2 linked regions of the Homo sapiens genome follow. The protein of the gene in region 1 interacts with the protein of each later gene in a pairwise test. Each region holds a gene or a part of one and is shown on either strand. Other genes may lie near its edges.

The links. Proteins that work in one complex are often made in the same cells at the same time.
Region 2: the proteins of TMEM132D (region 1) and HEBP2 interact in a two-hybrid assay, tested with the Homo sapiens proteins (one large-scale study listed by BioGRID).

The regions. Positions count from the first base shown.
Region 1 is NC_000012.12:129,071,029-129,075,291, forward strand, and holds the end of TMEM132D (transmembrane protein 132D precursor), read right to left. Parts: intron 4,048-4,263; exon of another isoform or gene 4,032-4,047; coding exon 2,847-4,031; 3' UTR 698-2,846; downstream 1-697. UniProt on the Homo sapiens protein: Regulate neuronals morphology via inhibition of the WAVE regulatory complex (WCR), a complex that controls F-actin cytoskeletal dynamics.
Region 2 is NC_000006.12:138,417,723-138,421,222, forward strand, and holds part of HEBP2 (heme-binding protein 2), read left to right. Parts: 3' UTR 1-3,500. UniProt on the Homo sapiens protein: Can promote mitochondrial permeability transition and facilitate necrotic cell death under different types of stress conditions.

The DNA.
Region 1 (4,263 bases):
CTATCTGAAATTATTTTGTTTGCTGTTTATTCCCCCTACCCAAATAGATATAAGTAAGGTTTTGGAGAGTGCATGTGCATTTGCTGTATGTGTGACTCTGTCTCTAGTGCTCACAGCTATTCCTGCTACAGAGTAGAGTAGCTGCTCAGTAAATACTGGCTGAATAAATGATTGACCTATCAATCACTTGCTATTGTTTGCATGAATATAAGGATTCCATGCATCTTCTTGTTTCGTAGAATTGTCTTGGGGCTGCAGTTGATAAAGGAATCTACAATCAACTTTTTAACCCAGTCCAGAGTTGTTGTATGTACACTCGAGACCCAAAGGAAGGACAGAGAATTTTCCTCACCTCAGCCCAAAAGGAGGCTGGAATGCATGCTTGCCTGCCACAGTTTCCACTTACTTACCACCATCAGTCAGCAGGCTTTTAGGAGAGAATTGCACGTGTGATTTATTTGCAAATCCTTTCAGGTCCTGGAGGAGAGATACTTGGTACACAATGCACTTTGTCATCACGTGTCAACATCCCCTCAATGCAGGGAGCAGCACTACACGATGTAAAGGTGGAACTGGATTGTGCTGGGATCCTTCAATCAGCATTTCATTTAGAGCTGCAGCATTTGCAGAGCCATTTGCAATTGATGCCAGCCCCTTGGAGGGGGTCAGCGTGTAGAAGACAAAGGACAGCCATAAAGCCACTGAATGCAAACTTTATATTTACAGTCAGTAAGTTTATAAATATATATTACATTCTTACAATCTACAGTACATTCTACACGCAGATGGATTTGGAAGCGGGCAGCGGCTGCAGTATTCAACAGAACATGACACAGGTAAGAATGGAAAGAAATATGAGGACGTTACTGAAAGCAAAGGATTCTCATTGAAAAGGGGTGACAGCTTAATCACCCAACCAAACAAGGTAGGTAAGCTTGCGGACAGGAGCAGGTGACTTACTGGCTGCAGAAACCTCAGTCTCAAGAGCACCACAGTTGCAGGGGAGAGGGCTAAGGTTGGGAGGGTAAACTGGTGAAATTTACACACACATGATCTAAAGAGAATTCAATTCTATGGAGAGGAAGAAGGAGTAAAGACACACACTCAAAATTACAGAGATGAGATGGAGAGGAAGCAGGGAGAAGATAGGTTCAAAGGAGGAGAGAGATACAGAGACAGACACACAGAGAGACTGGAAAACAGACAACTGAAGAGCAGAGAGAGAGAGAAAATGACCAGAGGGAAAAATAGAAGATCAATTCAACAGCACGGCCTCTTCTGCCCACCACCCGCTGCCCCCGACCATCTTTTGCAGGATCCTATCTGGCTGGCAATCACCCAACACACCATTCTCTACCTTGGAGTGAGCGTGAGATGAGGCAGGAATTCTCTGATGTATCCTTGCCCCCATCTTCATAGGCTTCATAAGTGAAGGGATTCAGGGATATCCAGAGTCATGGCTGGTCTTAAGCAATGCTGAACCTTTCGGGGCTGACTGCAGGACCAAGTGCTTGCAAACCTGCATCTTCACCACATGCACTGATGCCCCTTATCCCTTCGCACCTCCAAGATGAAGAAGGTTTCTGTGCTGTCCGGTGTGTGTGAGGCTGGGCTTCCTGCTGGATCCACCACTTTCACACCCAGAACCCCCCCAACTCCACACGCCCTGCACGTTCCACACAGGCACCCCGATTTGTCTCAACAGCCTCGAGGCCACATCTTTGGACAGGAGATCTGCCATGAACAGTGAAAGACCCATCCCAAGTGGCCCTGTTTTCTTTCTAGTAAAGCAAGGGAATGTATATCCCCTGGTATGGAATTCACCGTGACTACCGCCCATGCCTAGAGACCAGCCTCTTCAAAGACGGACGGCGTGGGACATATGCCCAGGTTGCGGGGGGAGCTTCTCTACAGAATGTCACTTGGGAGTTGACACAAAACCCAGGGGGAGAAAAAAGACCCAGCAAATACTACAAACTGCCCTCTCCCTCCCCCACCCACAGGTGACCAACGGCTTTGGGGAGGATGGCAATGCAGTGGAGGAATAGAAATGGATACATTGTGAACTTGATATGAATCAAAAGAGCGTGGTTCTTTGAACCTGATTCAAATTCTATGCCCAGTATCCTTAGTTTACAAATAAAGAAGTACCCTGAAGGGCTCAGAGGATTTGCGTCCATGTGTTTGTCCTTGGCATGTAGTTACAAAGGTATTTGTGGCCTGTTAGCCCACATGTTCCCTTTCAGTCCTTGTCAGCCACTTCCTTGGCCTGTCCATGATCTGAGACAGCTCTGGCCCAGCCTTTGAGAGACAATGACTCACAATCATGCCTCCCACAGCTGACGGCGGCACTGGACTGCCTGTGATCGCGCTCACAGCAAGATGTGCTGCTCCAGTTTCGATGACACGCTTCCTCCCATTGATCCATGGATGCGATCCATGGATGCTCCACCTGAGTTGTACTTTTCTTCCATAGTCTGCAATATTGAATATTGGAGCCATGTGGATTTTACAATATCCAAATTGCTTTGATTCGAGAGAGAGAGGCTGTTCTTTCCTGGACGCTCTCAGACGCTCAGTGATTCAGAACTCGTTTTTGTTTCAAGTCTTAAAAATCTTGCCATGCATGATAAACCTCTTAAGCAAGACACTGTACTCTGGAATGTGTGCGTCGATGCGGACTCCAGGCCTCGCCGCCGAGCCGGGGTCATTGGCTGAGGCTGTATGGATAGTGTCATCCTTATTTTGTCCTGCTGCTTTGTTTCTCTTCCGGGGGCACCGTTGCTACACATCCTGGAATTAAAGGCTGAAAGGTGAGTGAGAACCAATGTCTGTGTGTGTCTGGCTTACACATTTTCATGTAACCTCTCCATGTAGTTGTGCAGCTCTTTGCAGTCCCCAGGGTCCAGATCCTGGCAGACCCACTTAATGTCATCCTCGCTACTCATCACGATGGAGTTCCTGGTGGGGTACTCGTCGTCTGAGGAGACGGCGGTGAAGGTGGTAAATTTTACCCTTTTCCTTTTTGAGGTAGGGGATGTTGGGGGCTCACTTTTCTGATCTTTCCCATCAATGATGATGGGTCCCAAAGGTTTGAACAGCTGCCCATTGATGCTTTTTTGGGAGTTTGTGCTGAGGAGATATTTACTTTCCTCGAAATCCATGCCCCTGTCAATGGCAGTGATTTGCTCATCTTGCGAGGAGGCAAAGTTGATGTGATTCTCCAACAGCTCTGTCCGGTTGCTTAACCCAACCCAGTCATGAGAGTGACTCATCCCTTCCTGCTCCTCGAAGGGAACCTGTTTGTGTCTGTATTTTAATGCAAAGGTCACACAGTTTATCAAGAAGACCAAAATGGCCAAACAGAAGACTCCCAACAAAGCATACATCCCAATTTCTAAGTCGCTCAGCCCTTTGGATGCCTGCATAAGGTCATTCCCATCCATTTCCCCATTGCTTCTGGGGAGGTCCACCTGGGCTGGGAAGCTGGTGAGGTCGCTGGGGATGGTCTGCAAGTGGCTGTTGTCATCTAAAAGGCTTTCCTGGCCTTTCTTCTTCTGCAGGATGGACCTGTCTGTCGTGGTGCCCCGTCCCTCCATGAGTCCCATAGAAGAACTGCCATAGTACTGTCCTTCCTGACTCCCCCATTCCTGCGAGGGTTTTTTGGGCCTTCTGTCACTGACATTGTTTTCCATGTGAACCCCTGCCCCTGTGTGTCTGCTGTCACTGGTGTTGGGGTTAGCATCGTTTTGGCCAAATTTAACTTTGATGTTTGCCGTTCCAACAGCTAACACACTCTTCCGCTTGGATTTCTGGCAGGATTCACTAATAACCATTTCCACCTTGACCAGGGTGCCTTGTCCTTCTGTTTCCGCAGCAATGATAGGCCACTTGAATTTGGGGTCTTGGTGGATGGAGACTACCTTCTCATCCAAAGATGTGGCCATCAAGGAGAAGTCTTTCCCATCGTAAATATCCAAGGGCGTGACTGAGCCATCACTGAACTGGACCCAGCAACTGATGGCTGCTTCCTATGGAGAAAAATATGTAAGTTAATCAAATGGGCCAAAAAGCTCATTGAGCCCCAAGTCTTAGTACAGTAGACACACAACGGCAAAACTATTGCTACAAGAACAAAGACAAACCTTTCAAACAGTGTAGAAATAAGCGATAAGAAGTACCAAGAGTATAAAAGAAAATGAATTCTCACAAAGATGCAAAAAAGCAAAATAAAACAACAACAAAATGACAAAACAGGGCCAG
Region 2 (3,500 bases), on another chromosome or scaffold:
GATCTGCAGTGGGTCCCCTGGAGTCCTTGGTTGAGTGAAGGTGTTAGAAGAAACTACTTAAGCCAAGAAATGAGTAACTGGAAATTAGTAGAGCAAATAATTTACAGATCATCTATGGGGCTGGGAAAAGTTTGTGTTTCCACTAGCCAGAGTAGAAATAACTCATAATGCATGGGTCATCAGGTGGAGTCCTCCAACAGGTGTTGCCTTAGTACTGAGGTCAAATTGTCCCTAGACCAAAGGCTTCTTTGGACTTCCCCTAACAAAGCTTAAAGACAAGCCTTGGAAGGATCAAACTAATTTCAAGAAACTTAACTGTGAATCAGAATAAAACCCAATACCATTTATAGGAATATAACAAAATCCATCAACAAACAACATAACACTCATAATTACCAACATTCAGTAAAAAATTACTGGAAACAGAGAAATATAAATTATGGCCCATAATTAGGAAAAAAGGGTAATCATTAGAAGTAGAACCAGAAGTGACAGATATGAAGAAATTAGCAGCTTGAATTATGTGATGTGGCAGATCTTATGTATTGGAGGTAGGGGGAAAGAAGATGCAGTGTGGAATAGATGACAAGGCCCAATGAGAGAATCACAGTGCAGGTCCCTGGGGCCCTGAAGGAAGGTGGTTCTAACCACAGGAGAGGATCATATGCTTTTTGAAAAACAGCCTCTGCTGTGCTACTGGGCCCTGGTAGACACGGAACTTTGAGACCCAGTGATGCTGTATCCAGAACTGCTCATCTTAACTAGGTCCTGTGGGAAGCACTAAGTCATAAGCTAGTAGGATCGGCAGCAGCCCATTGGAAGATGGAAATGATATGTACAGGAGCAGTTCCAAGCCAGACCAGAGGACATAAGCAAACTGCAAGAGCAATTACTCCAACCGCCATGTCTGCACAGTGGCACCTACATCCCCCCTCCCTGTGGTTGTTGGAGGACCTGTATGATCCACTGAAGGAAGAGGAATGCTTGGGCTTGGTTTATTGATTAGTTATCTTCTGTAGTTGCAAGCTGAAAATGGACCTTCACTCAAAGGTGACATTGAAAAACGGGAAAAAAATTGCAATCTTCCTGCAAAAACTGGGCAGAATTTTTTGAGGTACACTGGATCATTCACCTTGTGAGGGAGGACAGGTAAAATATTTATGGAAGTGGCAGAAAATGGCCTGCCAGCTGATCAGGAGTTTGGGAGGAAAAAAACATGGATTAGGAGGTCTGGGGTAGAGGCATGTGGATGGGCATATGGAGTGAACACAGAAGTTGAAAAACTGTATCACATGTTAATGCCCACTAGATAGCACCCACCAGAGAAGAGGCACTAAACAACCAAGTAGATGAAATGACTTAGCCTGTTCTATTAGCTTTTGCCAGTGCCCACCTCAGTGCTGGTAAAATGCACACATAAAGTGGCAGTGGTGGCAAAGATGGAGGCTATGGATGGAACCCACCAACATGGGCTCCCACTTACCAAGGCCAACTTAGACACTGCTCACTGTGACTATCCAACCTGCCTGCAACAAATACCAATGCTGAGACCCTGATGAGGCTGTGAAGACCAACTGGTCGCTTGATAGCAAATTCACTATGGTAGGCTCATTCTTTCCTAGAAGCACCAGCAGTTTATTCACACAAGGACAGACTTCCTATTCTAGGTATGTGGTTCCTTTCGGGCCTACAGGGTCCTGAACACAATCTAAGGACTTACAAAACATCTGAACTGTCAGCGTAGATTTGCTGAATACGTGATCTATACATGTTAACACCCAATCAGGGAGAGTTCGCCAGCGGTCATAGGATCCACTGCTCCTATCACATACTGCGCCACCTAGAAGCTGCTAGACTGATGGAATGTTGGCATGGCCTGCTTTAGTGCCAGGTGGGAGACAATACCCTGCCAAGATGTGCCACCGTCTCCTGCACACAGTATACTTATTGAATCAGAAAGCCTGTATGATGCTGTGTCTACAACAGGAATATATAGATTTCAGAACCAAGGAGTGGAGGCAGGAGTGACCCCACTTACCATCGCACCCAACGAACCACTGAGGGACTTAGTACTTCCCATGCCCACAACTCCAGGTTCTACAGCATCAGAAGTCCTAGTTCTCAGAGACTGTATACCTTCTCTAGGCAATATTGCAAGAATCCCATTGAACTACAGTCTGCTGCTACTATGTGGGCACTTTGGACTCTGTGTTCAGGGACCAGTAGGCAAGAAGTCACCATCTAGTCAAGGGTAATTGACCCTGAACTGCAGGAGGAGGCAAGCCTGCTGTCAGAGGATAGTGGCGAGAGCAATGTGTGTGGAACTTAGCGGACCCACTGGAGGCACCCTCTGTACTCCTTGCCCAGTTGTAACTGAATGGACTAGTGCAGCAACCCTGGTCTGAGAAGGGTTTGGCTCCCAGGAGCTCAGGACCCTCAGGAATGAGAGCTTGGTTTATACTATCAAAAAAGCCACCAAGACCAGCAAAGATGACAGTTGTGGGTGAGGGGAATTTAGAATGAAGCAGGGAGTAATGAGGACCAGTTGTGGTTCCAAAACCATTTGCAGGAAGGTGCTATAGTTGGTCCTACCAAACTCCTCTTTCAACATTTATCCTCAGGAAGAGAGGTCCATTGGCGCCCTGAAACAGTCACTCTCTGCGTGTTTTTGGGAAAATGGATCCACATAGGCAAGGGGTGGACCATGGCAGGCATAGAGCGGTGCCACTTAGATCCCCCTTCAAGACAAGATATGCCATCCAGCTGCAAGGAGTGTGGGTAGCTGGCAGCCACCAGCTGCTACTTCACCAGGATCCACCTTAGCTTTCAAGCTGAGGTCACGCTATTCTCAAGACAGGAGGGGTTGGTGGCCAATGATTTCACTAAATTATGGAAATTGAGAGCATGCTTTTCTGAGGGGGCCCTCTTGCCAAAGACCAAGCAAGGCCATGGTACAAGGACCTAACTGTTTCAGTCCAACACAGGACTCCTCCAATGAGTGACCTTTTTCCCAGAGTTCCCCTGGGATGGCAGCTCGCCTGCTCTCCCTGCCTCGTCCTGCTTCCTCTTTTCCTTTCAAAGGTGCTTACTCCAATAATAAATCCTTTGGTATTCTAACTGTCTACTTCTTGAAGAATCTAAACTGGCAGTAGGATCATGCCCCTCACTGATAGCTCAACCACGTTTTCTATCTTTGGGCCTCCTTGTCTTTACCTAGCACATGAGAAGCATTTATTAGGACTTTTTTTCCCCCATTGCTGAACAAATGACTACAGATTGCTCTACCTCTTGTTCTGTGAATAAAGGCTGGCCGCTGTGGAAGGTAGGTCAGAGCAGGCAACTGAGAGAAACTGTATTACAGTTACCGAGTGGCTTATTAAGGAAAGTGGCGCAACAATCAGGTCCATGTTTCATTCAAATGACCCTCCATTCCCCCAACAACATCCTCACATCTGCCAAAGCAAATTATGCTGCTGTGCTCATTTGATGATGGAATCAGC